2 separate regions of the Homo sapiens genome follow, and region 2 is linked to region 1. Evidence: fine-mapped expression QTL. A gene starts in region 1. The other region holds a variant in brackets. All regions are shown on one strand. Distances are between the middles of the regions.

Region 1 (8,341 bases):
CTAATAAAAATTTTTAAAAATTGATATAGCTATATTCTCCCAAAAACTCACCCAGATAGTTTTACATGTTTGGTAAACGTCTGGTTCACTCATTCAATAGATACTTTTTAGTGCCTATTATGCCCTTAAAAAAGTATTGTTGTTCTAGGCTCAGGGTTTATTTTCTAGCTAACATTTTTTGAGTGCTTATTTGGTGCTAGATACCATTCCTTTTACATGTATTAGCATATTTATTCTTCACAATAATATATAGTGGGGAGCAGGTGATTACTGTTAAAGTATAGAAACTGGTACAGAGAGGCTCAATACCTTGTGGCCAAAACGATCTTTTAAAAAACACAGATCGAGTTAACCTGCTTATAACTATTCAGTGGCGTATTACTGGTCTCTGCAAAAGACCCATATCCTTAACAAGGACCTAAAAGCCCACAATGATTTGGTTGCTGTTGCTACTGACTTCTCTAAAGTAGACTTGTACCACTTTTCTCTCTCTGTATCCTATCTTTCAGGACCTCAAAGGTATCTTTCTCTCTTCTTCCTTAGTATCTTGGCACGTTGTTGTTCTTTTTTACCCATTGTCTCGTACCACTCATTCCATTATGCCTAGTGAAAGTCTGATAATTCTGTAGATCTTAACTCTACTTCTGGATGTCTTTCAATTTCCAGATAAAATGAAGTCCTCCTACTGAGCCCACTCATAGTCTTATGAACTTACCTTCATTACCCCTAGTAAATATTTTGACATGTATTTGTGTAATAATTTGATTAATTAATACTTGATTGTATGAGGGCACAGACTATACACACACACACACACACAAACATATATATATATATTTTTTTGAGGCAGGGTCTCGCTCTTGTCACCGAGGCTGGAGTACAGTGGTGTGATCACAGCTCACCATAGCCTCAACCTCCTGGGCTCAAGTGATCCTCCCACCTCAGCCTCCCAAGTAGCTGGAACCACAAGTGTGTGCTACCATGCCTGGCTAACTTTATTTTTGGTAGAGATGGGGTCTTGCTATGTTGTCCAGGCTGGTGTGAAACGCCTGTGCTTGAGTGATCCTCCCACCTTGGCCTCCCAAACTGTTGGGATTACAGGTGTGAGCCACTGCACCTAGCTGATATTTTCACTCACCATTGTATCCCTAGCAACTTGGATAGTGCTGACACATATCAAGCACGCAAGAATGACTTAAATTTCTAAATGGATTATCTATTTTAGTCATAAGATACATGAATTGGCATTAAAGTTTTCAAGAACCTCTATCAATATAATGTGAGGCTAGTCAATTATCCAAAAAGTATTCTCCTAAAACCTAAAAAGTAAGAAATTAGTAAAATTTTCAATAAGTAACCAAGGACAAAACTAGATTGTTCTATAAAATTTTAAAAACTAACTTTAAGACAAAAATTAGTAGGATGTAGTTACTGGGAAATTAAACAAGTTGGGAAATACAAACAGGGTGGAAGATGATAGTTACCCTACACATCTCACCAACACTGTCTAGGATTACAGACAAATGATTTTACCTCTTTCCTTAATCAAAACAAATTGTTTAGGGAGAATGTTTTAAAGGAATAGTCCCAGCCGGGCGCGGTGGCTCACACCTATAATCCCAGCACTTTGGAGGCTGAGGCTGGCAGATCACTTGAGATCAGGAGTTTGGGACCAGTCTGGCCAACATAGTGAAACCCCGTCTCTACTAAAAATACAAAAATTAGCTGGGTGTGGTGGCACATGCCTGTAATCCAGCTACTCGGGAAGCTGAGGCGGGAGAATCACTTGAACTCGGGAGATGAAGGTTGCTGTGGGCCAAGGTCGCGCCACTGCACTCCAGCCTGGGTAACAGAGTGACAGAGGGAGACTCTGTCTCAAAAAAAAAAAAAAAAAAAAAAAAAAAGGAACAGTCCCTTTAAGAGTGACTAAAGATGTAAAGAATAAAGCTAAACCAAGCCAGCTACATAACTATAGAGGTATAAATGTAAAATTAACATTCATTGATTATTTACTATGTGTCAGGGATGATCTATGAGCATTTTTTAATAGACTACTTTACACTGAATATGAGCATTTATTAACTCATGCTTTTTCAAATCAACTCTATGATGTAGTTACAATTATTATCTCTATTTTACAAGTGAGAAGATCACATAAGTTTTAAGTAGGCAGAGTCAAGATTTGAACCCAGGCTAAGGTTAAGAGCTGGTGCTCTTAACTATAAGAGGACAGTAGTTAAAATAGATATCTTCCCTAATATGTGTGTAAATACTGAAGATTTTTTTATTAATACAAATTGTTTTCTTATCTAGACTATTTCACTAGCCCTCTAGTTAGTTTCCTTGACTCTAATTTTGCTCTCCTTAAATCCATTTTCCACACTGCATCCAGTGATCTGCTTAAATCTTAAATGGACTTGTACAAAATTAAGGAAAACCTACTCAGCACGGCAAACAAGGCTATGATTCATGCTTAATGACCCCAGCCTTCTGGCCTCTCCGATGTCCTTTTCTGCTACTCCCACCCTAGACTTTATATGTCTTAAAGTCTAATACAAACTCAGTACTTGTAGTGTCCACTACACACTAACCATCCCCACTTACACTATGTATTTTAAGAACTATGGATCTTTTTGTTCGCTTTTCTGAAATGCCCCTTGTTCCTGGCATTTTCGTCTCAATTAAGCATCTTTCTGGATTAAATTTTATTTTCTCCAGGAATCCTCTTCTGAAACCCTTAGAAGTGACCCTCCTCTACTGGTACTTAGCCATCCTTTATTGAAATTACCTGTTTATGAGCCAGTAACCTTTATTAAGCTCTTTGAGAAGAGGGATTCTTTCTTTCTCTTTTACCTACATCCCGCACAACCCAGCTCCCCCTCCGTCTCCCCCACCTCCATGCACAATTCCTGGCACGTGTTAACTGTTCAGTAAATGTTGAACTTTTGAACTTTACTGGAAATCAAGAAACACTGAGTTTTAGCCTCAGTTTTGCTCACTATGTGATTTTAGATATTTTATTCTCTGTGCTTATCGTGTGTATCTATATACAACTTAATCCTAAAGTTCCATCGTATAAAAAATTCTACAACTTTTTATTTTGCTCTGTATGTGACAGTACCTGGTATTTAAAAACAATTCTCTACATCAACTTAAAAAATTAACATTTGATGATTATAATTAACTTCTAAAAAACTGAAAGATGAAACACATCAATGCCTTTTCTTTCCCCCCTGTACTGCTACCTGAAAACATCGGAATTTGCTGTGGAACGAACAAGATTTCTTCTAAGAAATTACCCCCTACCACCATGACTACATAAAATAAGGTAATTCCCAGCAAGAATATTATGCAGATACTAAAAAGAAAACATGCTAGGCATGGTGGCTCACGCCTGTAATCCCAGCACTTTGGGAGGCCGAGGCGGGTGGATCGCCTGAGGTCGGGAGTTCGAGACCAGCCTGGCCAACATGGTGAAACCCCGTCTCTACTAAAAATACAAAAATTAGCTGGGCATGGTGGCGCACGTCTGTAATCTCAGCTACTCGGAAGGCTGAGGCAGGAGAATCGCTTGAACCCGGGAGGCGGAGGTTGCAATGAGCCGAGATAGCGCCACTGCACTCCAACTCTAGCTTGAGCAACAAAGCGAGACTCCGTCTCAAAAAAAAAAAAAAAAAACAATGACACGAGGGAAATGCTTACAATGCTCAATGAAAAAATGAAAAGAAAGGTTATAAAGTTTTAATATACGATTTGATCTTTTGAAAATAATGGATATATAACTTAAACGGAAATGTATCATTAAATATAGCAACAGCGTCTTCCAAAAAATTTCAAAATCGGGCTTAATGCCAATTACACGATCATAATCCAAAAACCCTTAACTGAAGCAAAGACAGTGATTTGTAACATCTGAACTGTGTGAAAGGGGTGGGGGTGATTCAAACAAGTGTCATCACCTTGTCCAATGATGAAGGAGAACGTGTATCAGTTCTGCATTGTGAAATTCTCAGTATGAGAGCGTGTAGTGGCTAAGAAAAGCAGTGGGCGAATTAGGAAACAAAGAGAAAAGCCAGCGACATCACCAGTTCTGGCCTCCTTCCCACCGGAGGAAAGGGGAGAAGGCGGGTAGTCATCAATTCCAGGTCCAGCCTAAGTTCTGGGTCCCCGGCCCCAGCGAGAGCCTCGCCTCGCCTCGCGCGCCTGCGCGGAGCGGGCTGGCTTCCTGAACGGCCCTCGCCTCTTCACCACCAGGGCCGTCCACCAGAAGTTTCTAAACGGGTGAGAGGCGACAACGCAGTGCAGCTGGGTTAAAGGAAGGAGGCTGGTTTATCCTCCGCACTTACTTGGTACTCGATCTCCAGCGAGGCCTTCAGGGGCATGGGCTGGTAGAAGCACTCCTTCTGGCCGGCGGGAAGGGTAAAGGTGAAGTCGCTATCGAGGGAAGGTGTGAAGCCGGCCGCCCCAGGCAGCAGCACCGGAGGCAGAGCGGCCAGAAGGAGCACGGGGAAGGGCAGCCAGATCTTGTCGCCCATCCCTGCTGGGGCGATCCCGGGCTGAAAGAGGCGTCAGGTACTGTTGTCTCCGCTCCGCGTTTCCTCTCTGGACTCCTCGTGGTTGACAGGGAAATCTGGAGTCTGAAGAAACTCCAGGTGGCGGCCGCGGCGGCGGCGAACACTCCCTCCGAAAGAGAAGCGCAGTTCTCCAAAGGGTAGGGACTCTGGGCGGGGCTAGCAGTCCTATTCCGCAACCGCCTCAGTCTCGGCCCCCTCAGGCCAGGCGTGAGCGCCGCCCGCCTCTCCCCCTGACGGCCTCCGGTTCCCATGGCTTCCCCCACCAATGGGCATCATGGCGGTAATTGTGGGAAATGTAGTCCCGGGCGGGCTCCGCTAGTGGGCTCGGGCGCGCTCGCCGACCACGATCCCCGGCAAGCCCCGCGCCTTCGGCGGCGCCTCACGCAGTCTGCGCCGGGGCGGGGCAGTGACCGGGTAGGCGCGTCCCAACGGCTCCCGCGGCGGTTCGAATTCTGTGCTGCCGGGGTTCGCTGGTTCTCCGAGTTGTGTCCGAGGCTTCCACGCGCAGGGGCCCGGGAAAGGGTCAGAGGCTTCCTAACGCAGACTCGAGTGCGAAGCGCGCAGTCGCCGGGTGGGTCTCTCCCCAGCGACGATTTGGGTGGTGAGCGACTGCGCCTTGGCGTGGGGAAACCGGCTTACCTGGGGGAGTTCTGTTCCTTTCCCTCCCGGCACCTTGGATGCGCTGGGACTGGTCCTCGTGGTTGCTGAGCATGCTGCTCTGAACGGTTGTATTTTATTTGATGAAAAATAGGAGGCCGGGCGCAGTGGCTTACGCCTGTTACCTCAGCACTTTGGGATGTCGAGGCGGAAGGATTGCTTGAGCCCAGGAGTTCGAGGCCAGCCTTGGCAATATGGCGAGCCACTGTCTCTATAAAATTAAAAAAAAAAAAAAAAAGAGGAAACTGTCACTTCCGTCCCCCACCCCCGCCCCCGCTTCTTTCAGACGGATGTAAGATTAGCTGTGTCAAGCGATCTTGAGACAGGAGACTACTACATAAAGTTATGACTTCTTTCCAAAATGAGGAATCTTTTTCGACTACAGCCCATTGTATCACATACATAGGGTATAAAAGAACACTTGTCCTTCGTTTGATGGGTGTGCGTGTGCAAACCTACAAACACATTGTTAATTAGGGCCGAAAGATGATGTTGTTAAGGTCGGTGAGTAGGATGATGTGCTTTTCTAGGTATGCATAGTCAGTGAAGATAGCCTTTTTTGGGTAACTACTGTAAATTGAAGTTAAGGACATTCATTTGACAGTAAATGTCCCACTAGGAAAATGAAAACATTTTAGTATCAAATATATTCATTGCTACTGCAGAAGAGTTAGGGAGTTCTTTCTTTTTTTTTTGAGACCGAGTCTCACTCTGTCGCCCAGGCTGGAGTGCAGTGGCGCGATCTCGGCTCACTGCAACCTCCGCCTCCCAGGTTCAAGCAATTCTCTGCCTCAGCCTCCCGAGTAGCTGAGATTACAGGCGCTCGCCACCACCCCCGGCTAATTTTTTTGTATTTTTAGTAGATACGGGGTTTCACCATCTTGGCCAGGTTGGTCTTTAACTTTTGACCTCGTGATCCACCCGCCTTGACCTCCCAAAGTGCTGGGATTACCGGCGTGAGCCACCGCGCCCGGACTGGGAGTTATTTCTTGCATGGCAATACACAGATGTTGAACTAAAACCTGATTTAAGATGAAATATATAGTACCAAATGGTATTATAGAATTTGCCCAATTTTCTCTACCCTTTTCTCCTTCACCATCCTACAGAGAGCTAGAGATGTTGAATAGGTAAAGCAGGATGGGGACCTGATTTATTGACTTGTCTGCGAGAGTCTTGTCACTTAAGCAGAAGCAAATTTGTGGAAACAAAAAAGGGAAAGAGGATAGAACCAGTTTGTCTATTAAGATTACATAGTATCTCATTTAATTTCCTGCCACTTTCTTTCCATAAGGTGGGAGTTTTCTTTTTAATCTTCCTCCCTACATCTGAGAATTTTTGAGTGGGGAATAAATGTAACATACCATTCTAACTGGATGAGGGAAGGAAGGACAGTTTAGTATTCGTTAATTCATTCAAAATATTGAGCTTCTCTAAGTACATTGCGGTCCTGAACGTAATGCACAGGACTTTTAACCTTTTGGAACTTGGGATGGGATCAGAATGCTAAGAAGGGCGTTGAAGGAGATGCTACAGTGAAAAAGGTAAATGGGATCTGAAAGAGGAATGTAATTTTAAGATTGCGCAGAAAGCTCTGTAGTAGTGGAGATTATAAAGCTTTAGTTTTTTATTGTATTAATTACAATAATAAAATGTGATGCTTTATTGTGATTTTTATATGCAAAGAAATTTAGTAGTTTCACAACCCTAGAGATACTCATCCACTGAAGAAACAAAAGCTTTTCTTCATTTCTATGAGTTGACCTGCCAAATGTTATTTTGATCCCTGTGGTTGTGACTTGTAAATGTGTCTTTTTAAAATTTTATAACTATTGGGCGTAGGAGGAGGAGACAGCTTTTATCTGGTAATAAATTCCCTTCTAACAAAATATGAATGTAATGATACCATTTAATCAGATGTCCAGTACTTGTAATGTAATTATGAAAGTTCAAACACCTCATATTGAAATTGATATGTAATATGTAATAAAGCTACAATGCGACATAATTTAATGGTCTTTGCATCCTAATGACTTGGATTCAAATCTTGATTTCACCATTTACAGTTTGTGTGACTTTGAGCAAGTTATTTAATGTCTGATTCTTAGTTTCCTTAACATGTAATGAAAATAATTAACAATTGTTAGGAAGATCAGGTATGCTTACAAAAGAGAACTATAATAACTAGACCCTGGCTAAAATGAAAAATTCATTCATTGAAATTGTATTGAATTCCTTTATGGCTTTACACTACAGATAAATTCATTATTATTGATTTTTTGTTTTGTTTTAAACCACCATGAAAGATTTCACAACATTTAAAATAGAAAACTAATGAGTTAAATTCTATTCATGTGAGTATTTTGACTGAAACTACAGAATCTTTCAGACAAGGTACAAGAAATTCATTTTTTTTTTAAGAAATGGAATCTAGTTCATCAGACTACTATAATAAAGACAATGAAGAGGAAAGTTTGCTTGCAAATGTTGCTTCCTTAAGACATGAACTGAAGATAACAGAATGGAGTTTGCAGAGTTTAGGGGAAGAGTTATCCAGGTAAGTAAGTAAAATCACATATAGAATTCACTGTGCCTTAAATACATCAATGTAAAATGTGTGGATTTCATTATGATGTATTGTTTCTAACCTGCCTCTGGAATAAGAAATAATTTTCTTATACTTTTTAATGTAACTTTCAGTTTAGGGAAAAATAAGGAATATTAGAGAAGCCTCTTTGCATATTAAAAACACTTTCAGTGTATTAGAACTCAGTATAAAATATATATTTTGGGCTTTACTAATTTTTTATGATTTTTTTGAATCTTAAGTAATCTTAGCGTAGAGGCTTTAGAAATACAGTTTGCTAGTTTAAAAGTAATTATGATTTATTTAAAATTTAGTGGAAACATTGCCTTATGTTCATAACTGTGAATCTGCTTAGCAGCATTTCAGGTTTTCTATTTTCTTATTTAATGTATAGCAATTTGTAGTGAATAAACTATCCAAGAACTGAAATATGTTTTTTCTTTTTTCTCTAGTGTTAGTCCAAGTGAAAATTCTGATTATGCCCCTAATCCTTCAAGGTCTGAAAAGCTAATTTTGGATGTTC
Region 2 (8,341 bases), 33 kb after region 1:
CCTGGGTTCAAGCGATTCTCCTGCCTCAGCCTCCTGAGTAGCTGGGATTACAGGCATGTGCCACCATGCCCAGCTAATTTTGTATTTTTAGTAGAGACAGGGTTTCTCCATGTTGGTCAGGCTGGTCTCGAACTCCCAACCTCAGGTGATCTGCCTGCCTTAGCCTCCCGAAATGCTGGGATTACAGGCATGAGCCACCACGCCTGGCCTAAAATGTTTTTATAATAATGGTCTACCACCTTTTCTCTTTTAGTAATATTTGTGACCATATATATAAATGAGATTAAGAAGAAGGTAAGTAAACCTATTCAGGAATTTGTAATCAATAGGTGTAAAATGAAGGAAAGATCAGGGGAAACTATAGGTAAATATATTATGGTTGGTTTCAGATATGAATGTATGGTAGACTAGATGGTAGACTTACCAATGTTAAACTGTTATGAACTGTGGAATTATGAACCAAAAAAATCTCAGAAATCATCTGATTCAATACTATTTTATTGGTGAAGAAACCTAGACCCAAGAAAGTAAATAACTTGCCCAACTGGTAAGTAGTAGAATTTAAACTAGAACATAAGATCTTAGCTCCTCTGATATCTGCTTTCCCAGGATGCTGTTTATTTGCTTGGATTTTTAATGTACTGTTTGCTTTTGAAATTAGAAAGTAATCATATACAGATAACAATTTTAATTTGGCATTCTCATTTGTGTATCAAGAATTATTTCATATATGGTCAGGCACAGTGGCTCCTGCTTGTAATCCCAGCATTTTGGCAGGCCAAGGTGAGAGGAACTCTTGAAGCAAGAGTTCAAGACCAGCTTGGGTAATACAGTGAGACCCTGTCTCTACAAAAATGCAAAAATTAGCTGGGCATGGTGGCGCATGCCTGTGGTCCTAGCTACTCGAGAAGCTGAGGTAGGAGGATTGCTTGAGTCCAAGAGTTCGAGGCTGCAGTGAGCTCTATGATCATAAGCTCCAGTCTGGGTGACAGAGTGAGACCCTGTCTCTCAAAAAAGAATCATTTGAGATATGATTCCGAATGTGGTAATGTATGCTTGATCGTTTGTTTCTTGTAGTGCTAAGAATGACACGATTAGAAAATGTGATTTTTTTCTACTTCTAGGAGGTGTGATTCGGTTATAGTTTGAAGGTAGAAGTCATTAAATGCTAACCTTGCTCCTTTTTATAACTGTCTTTTAAAATTCTGTATTATCCAAACATACAGAAAGGTGCATATGCTAGTGTAGCACCTTATTTGTAAAATTTGGGACACATATTGTCTTATCAACTCTATGTTTTTTTAGAATAAAATTTTACAGGTAAATCTTCTTTGTGTACCTTGTCAGATCCCAATTATCTTCCTCTCTCCTCAGAAATGGCAATTATTCTGAAATTCATGTGTATCCTTCTCGTCCATGTTTTAAATATTGTCACATATCGATGCATCTAGAAATATATATATGTTGCTTAGTGTTTTTATGAAAATACTGTTTGCCACTATAATTTGTTTTTCACTCAATATTGTTATGAGATGTATCCATACTGATTTATGTGACTCAGGTTTATTTCTTTTAACTATTGTAGTTTTCCAATTATCTTAATATTTCTTAATGTATTTATATATTCTCCTATTGATGGACATTAAGTTGTTTCCATTAAATTCATACAGTTTTTAAAATTTGAAGTTCTGAATAAAAAAGCAAATGCATCTCATTTACATAAGTTTACATATGTTTGTTTTTAAACTTGCAGTTAAAAAGAGAATTATTTGGCTTTAAATCATATCTTTCTAAATACCAGATGAGTAGCTTCTCAAACAAGGAAGACCGTTGCATTGGCTGCTGTGAGGCAAATAAATTGGTGATTTCGGAATTGAGGTACAATTTTCAGATTCTGCAGTTATAGCAAATAGAATGTTTTTTATTGGTAATTAAGACCCTTAATTGGCCGGGCATGGTGGCTCATGCCTGTAATCCCAACACTTTGGGAGGCTGAGGCAGGCGGATCACGAGGTCAGGAGTTCGAGACCAGCCTGACCAACATGGTGAAACCTCGTCTCTACTAAAAATACAAAAATTAGCCAGGCATGGTGGTGGCACGCGCCTGTAATCCCCACTACTTGGGAGGCTGAGGCAGGAGAATCACTTGAACCCGGGAGGCGGTGGTTGCAGTGAGCTGAGATAGTGCCACTGCACTCCAGCCTGAGCAACAGAGTGAGACTCCATTAAAAAAAAAAAAAAAAGACCCTTAATTGAGGAATTTAAAAAATATACAGAAAAGCTCAGAGAATATTATAACAGGTATCTGTGATTCCACAACTAAGAATTGAATCTTCTTAACCAGGATTGATTCTCCTTAAAATTTGTGGTATTTGTTTTAAATCTGTTTCTCCAAATAAAAAATAAAACATTACAGGATGAATAATGCCCTTTGATCCTTATGACTAGTCCCATTTTTCCCCTAAGTATCCACCATCATGAATTGGATATATATTTCTCTATTCATTTTTGTATGTTTACACACATGTACACAAATATGTACCGTATACTGTGTGCAATTTTGCTTTTTCACTCAGCAGTATTTAAAAAATTCATTCATATTGAGATAGAGTAGATTAACAAATGGATTTGTGTAATTACTTTTAATAGCTGTATAGGATTCTGTCCTATAACAGTGTCATAATTTATTTGTTCCTTTATAGGTATCTTGTTTCTGTTTTCTGTTACAAACAGTGCTGCAAAGGACATCCTTGTACATGTTTTCTTATACATATATATGAGAGTTTCTGTAGTATATATTCCTAACAGTGAAATTGCTGGGTCATACAGTGTGTACATTTTCAATTTTACTAAATACCATCAAGTTTGTAAAGTGGCTGAACCAATTTATAATTCTACAGTGGTATATGGGAGTTTTCATATCCTGCCTAAAGAGTTGACTAATATTAGAATTCTAATTTTTTAAATCAACTTGAAAGGTGAAAAATAGTACAGTATGAGTTTTTTTATAGAATCTTTCTAATAATTTTTCCCTTCTTTTCTTTTGTGCCAGAATTAAGCTTGCAATAAAAGAGGCAGAAATTCAAAAGCTTCATGCAAACCTGACTGCAAATCAGTTATCTCAGAGTCTTATTACTTGTAATGACAGCCAAGAAAGTAGCAAATTAAGTAGTTTAGAAACAGAACCTGTAAAGCTAGGTGGTCATCAAGTAGGTAAGTATATTGAGTTATTTTAATAAATTATATTCAGAGTTTTGGATGATAGTTTTTTTTT[A/T]AAAAAACTTTTATTTAAATTTTTTTTTTAATTTAAGTTCAGGGATACATGTGCAGATTTGTTACATAGGTAAGCTTGTGTCATGGAGGTTTGTTTTACAGATTATTTCATCACCCAGGTATTAAGCCTAGTACCCCTTAATTATTTTTCCTGATCTACTCCCTCCTTCCACCCTCCACCCTCTGATAGACCCCAGTATGTGTTGTTCCCCTCTATGTTTCCATGTGTTCTCAGATGATAGTTTTTAAAGAACAAATTTATCAACTGTTTGGTTTCTATTATCAAACATACTTGATAATCTGTTACTAGTTGTGGTCTGATAAGACAGCAAAAGTTATTTCAGAATTATTAGACTTTGTATCATTCGTTAATGAAGTAAAATTGATATCCAATAGAACAGTGGTCCCCAACCTTTTTGGCACCAGGGACTGGTTTTGTGGAAGACATTTTTTCCATGGACCAGGGACAGGGTCAGGGTTGGTTTCAGGATGATTCAAACGCATGACATTTATTGTGCAATTTATTTATATTATTATCATATTGATGTTGAAATAATTATACAACTCATCGTAATGTAGAATCAGTGGTAGCCCTGACCTTGTTTTCCTGCAACTAGAAGGTTCCATCTGGGGGTCATGGCAGACAGTGACAGATCATCAGGCATTAGATTCTCATAAGGAGTGAGCAGTCTAGATCCTGCGCATGTGCAGTTCATAATAGGGTTTGTGTTCCTGTGGGAATCTAATGCTGCCGCTAATCTGACAGGAGGTAGAGCTCCAGCAGTAATGCGAGCGATTGGGAGTGGGTGTAACTACAGATGAAGCTTTGCTCATTCGCCTGCCACTCACCTCCTACTATGTGGCCCAGTTCCTAATGGGCCATGGACTGGTACCAGTCCGTGGCCCAGGGGTTGGGGACCCCTGCAGTTAAGATGCACCCATTTTAATATACAGTTTGATACGTTTTGTCAGGTGTTTGTGTTTTAATGTTTAACTCTTGTTACCATCACCACAGTCAAGACATAAGACATCTCCACCAGGATCCTTTGTACTTTTTCCCAGTTAACTTTTAGGCTTAATTTTCTCTCTTTTTTTTTTTTTCCAAAAAAACCACAAAACTTTTCTTAAAGTTTAGATTATTGATTTTAGACCTCTTTTCTTTTCTCATCTAAGTATTTAAGGATAGAAACTTCCCTTTAAGCGGTGCTTTGGGTGTATTCCACTACTTTTTTTAATGTGTTGTATTTTCATTTTCATTCAGTTCAAAATAGTTATCTCTTGTGATTTCCTCTTTGACTCATAGGCTGTGTGTGTTTTATTTCCAAATATTTGGAGGTTTTTCCAGATATTTTTGTGTCATTCATGATGATCAGAGAACATACTGTATAGGACTTCATTTTTAAGAATGTTTTGAGATTTGGTTTATTGTCCAGCGTATGATCTATCTTGGTGAATGTTCCAAGTTGAGAATACTAGTAATTAGAGGTGGTAATAAATATAATATGTTATAGATTCTTTTACATCAAGAACAGAGCCAATAAAAAGTAAATAGCCTAGAAAGTGAAATATTATAGATGTAGAGAATTTATGAGAAATGGCTACTGATGCAAATCTTGAAGGCAAAGTGTATCTTGTTTCCACATCTGTGTGTTCTCATGTAATCATCTACATTATGCTTTTTAAAAGCACTTCTGAAGGCTTACTTACCTTGGAGTGGGAGATGTGTATGTTTATAGTGGAGAAGGGGCATGGTCAAGTAACTACCTCTGATAACCCTCAGTAATTTTTTTGAGACAGGATCTTGCCATGTTGCCCAGGATGGTCTTGAATTGGGCTCAAGTGATCCTCACACCTCAGCCTGTTGAATAGCTCAGATAACAGGTGCCACTGTGCCTGGCTACCCTCAGTAATTTTTTTTAAAGCATCACTGAATTCTCATTAGCTAGTTTGGAGAGAAAGACGATGGGGTCGGGAAGGATTCACTCTTTGGAGCTTTTGAACCTGCTTCTGTGTGCAGTACATAAAAATGTTCTTAATGATCTCAAACTGTCCAAATAAATTTTATGATTACCTTCAGTTTAAGGAAACAGGGCAACTTAAAAAAAATTTTTACAATGATTTCTATTAAAAAATGGAATTTAAAAGGTGGAGAAGGATTCTTACATTTCTGGTACAAAGGAATAGTCTTAGCTACCTAGAAAAATGAGTGATTCAGAACTTTTCTCCTCTTTGTTACGTATTTAATTTAGAGAGCACATTACTTATTCTTTGATTTCCTTAATGAATGTCTCATTCTCTGTCCCTTTTAGTACTCTTTAGATCAGAAACTAAACTTTGTTTATGACTAAATCTTTCAACTATTTAAGTAGGTTTTTATTCTTGAAGTCCTATTCAGAACAATTTTCCTTTTATGTTTATTAGCAGAAAGCGTAAAAGATCAAAATCAACATACTATGAACAAGCAATATGAAAAAGAGAGGCAAAGACTTGTTACTGGAATAGAAGAACTACGTACTAAGCTGATACAAATAGAAGCTGAAAATTCTGATTTGAAGGTTAACATGGCTCACAGAACTAGTCAGTTTCAGCTGATTCAAGAGGAGCTGCTAGAGAAAGCTTCAAACTCCAGCAAACTGGAAAGTGAAGTAAGCTTGGAATTAGCTTGGTATATATGTTAATTTTTGAACTAGAACAAAAGGTATTATTTTAGGGTTTTATAAAAATTATATGTTTACATCCAGATTTAAAGTTTTTAAAAAATGGTACCACATAAGTTATAAATTGTTTTAAAATTATATTTGGAAACCTTTGTATTTTAACTTATTAAAAGTTAAAGTTATTAAAAGTAGGAAAAACTGTAGTGGGTAAAAGTCTCAAATTTGGTGGAAATAATATTGCATTGCAGCCTATTATTTCTTCCATAGTATAAGTTAATATGGTTAATATACATTTATAAATAAAGACTTTGGATTATGCTGTTGGAAGAAAAGGAGTGATAATAAAGGATTTCAAATTTTAGCAAACCCCAAACCACCTAGGAAGCCTGTTTAATATGCATATTTCTGGGTCCTGTTCCAGCAATTTCTGATTCAGTATATATGGGCACAAGAGTCTGCTTTTTTCTTTTCTTTTTCTTTTTTTTTTTTTTTCTTAGAGACAGGGTCTTGCTCTGTTGCCCAGTCTGGAGTGTGGTGGTGTGATCATAGCTCACTGTAGCTTTGAACTTCTAGGCTCAAGCCATTCTCCTGCCTCAGTCTTCCAAGTATTTGAGACTGCAGGCATGTGTCACTATGTCCAGCTAAGTTTTTTTATTTTTTATTTGTAGAGACAGTCGCTGTGTTGCCCAGGCTTGCCTCGAACTCCTGGTTTCAGGTGATCCCCACCTCAGTATCCCAAAATGCTGGGATTACTGGTGTGAGCCACCACACCTAGCCGGAATCTGTATTTTTATTTTTTGTGTATTTCTGCTGTTTAAAGAGTCTGTATTTTTAAACAACTGCATGTAAACCTGAAACAACTACGCAAGGAATTACATTCTGAAAAGGGGATAATGAGTGTTTTGTGAATATCTTGTCTTCATTTTCACTGAGGACAGGATAAGGGTGCCTCATTAGGTAATTGTGGACCAGGACCACATGTGTATATCTTATACTCGATCTTCAAACCAGAGGCTGCAGTCATCTATAGGTACACTTTTTAAATACCTGCTTTCTCAGCTTAAAGTCTATAGCCAAGGCTGAGGAAAAAGAACTATAAGATAGGAACTTATGTTAATAATGAAGATGGAGATTTAGACAGTTTATAACTATGGCTACCAGTTTACTTAGGAAATTGCCAAATACTGGGATTAATAAGTTTTTTAAATTACAAAAATAGCACAGTCTTGTTAATATAAAAGGGGAAAAAGAAGAAAATGAACCATTGATAATTCTACCACCAGAAATAACTGCTGATAACATTTTATTGTACTTATTTCAGTCTTTAACAGCTACGTAAAAATAGATTAGGGTATTGTCCTTTTTGGATATAGGGGTCTGAATTAAATGACTTATGTTTTACATAGATAGAAGAAGTGATCCTTTGTTTTCAGTATTTGTTTTTCTTCTTAATTGTCACTTATTTTGTAAAATACTTATAATTATGTGGGTTAAAAAGTTATTCACTTTGCATCCTAAATGTTTATAACTGTAAGTTTGCCCAATTTACCTAGACACAATGTATTTGAACTTTGAAAGAGGAGCAGGTGTTTGATCTTAGAATGCAAAATCATTACCTTTAAAAAATAATTTTACATTTATTTCAATGTGTTTTCAGATGACAAAGAAATGTTCTCAACTTTTAACTCTTGAGAAACAGCTGGAAGAAAAGATAGTTGCTTATTCCTCTATTGCTGCAAAAAATGCAGAACTAGAACAGGAGCTTATGGTAAAACTTATCTTTGTTCCTACAAATTTACTGTGATTTTTAGGCACTTAATTTGTGACAGCACATTTGTTTTAGCATCATTATTATAAAATATATAGGAAAGTATAAATTCTACTAAACTCTTCTGATCATTTCTTGTTTATATTTTTAAGTTAATAGGCTTATATGGCAAGTTATCCAAGTTTTCTCTTTTTTTTTTTTTTTTTGAGACAGAGTCTCACTCCGTCGCCCAGGCTGGAGTGCAGTGGTGTGATCTCGGCTCACTGCAAGCTCTGCCTCCTGGGTTCACGCCATTCTCCTGCCTCAGCCTCCCGAGTAGCTGGGACTACAGGCGCCCGCCACCACGCCTGGCTAATTTTTTTTGTATTTTCAGTAGAGACAGGTTTCACCGTGTTAGCCAGGATGGTCTCATCTCCTGACCTCGTGATCCACCCGCCTCAGCCTTCCAAAGTGTTGGGATTACAGGCGTGAGCCACCGCACCCGGCCGTTTTCTCATTTTTATCCTAATAGGATTGAAGATAATGGTAGTTCTTTGATATGCTTCTTGATATTTAAAATAGTTTAAATCTTCTCGTCTTGATAAAGTATTTTTAGCCATTTTGTTAAAGTTTGAAGTATAAACTACTGTGGTTCTTTAAAGAA

What was found. PIP is the estimated chance that this variant, and not a neighbour inherited with it, causes the effect. A credible set is the group of variants that fine-mapping cannot tell apart.
Region 2: its variant is the best candidate, but not a certain one, in a credible set for the expression of TMED5 in whole blood (TOPMed, PIP 0.81).

Annotation. Positions count from the first base shown.
Region 1 is chr1:93,175,708-93,184,048 of GRCh38, forward strand. TMED5 (transmembrane p24 trafficking protein 5) reads right to left here and starts at 4,706. Exons shown (of 4, transcript NM_016040.5): 1 at 4,347-4,706. The coding sequence starts at 4,535. It overlaps CCDC18 (coiled-coil domain containing 18), which reads left to right and starts at 5,017. Exons shown (of 29, transcript NM_001378204.1): 1 at 5,017-5,145; 2 at 7,653-7,788; 3 at 8,271-8,341. The coding sequence starts at 7,655. RefSeq lists enhancers at 4,087-4,236, 5,107-5,316 and a silencer at 4,767-5,046.
Region 2 is chr1:93,209,049-93,217,389 of GRCh38, forward strand. It overlaps CCDC18 (coiled-coil domain containing 18), which reads left to right. Exons shown (of 29, transcript NM_001378204.1): 10 at 1,754-1,878; 11 at 3,053-3,213; 12 at 5,695-5,918; 13 at 7,588-7,698. Among named protein-coding and RNA genes, the nearest start is that of CCDC18, 32 kb to the left of the region's middle. The variant A/T (reference allele first, on the strand shown) is at 3,275.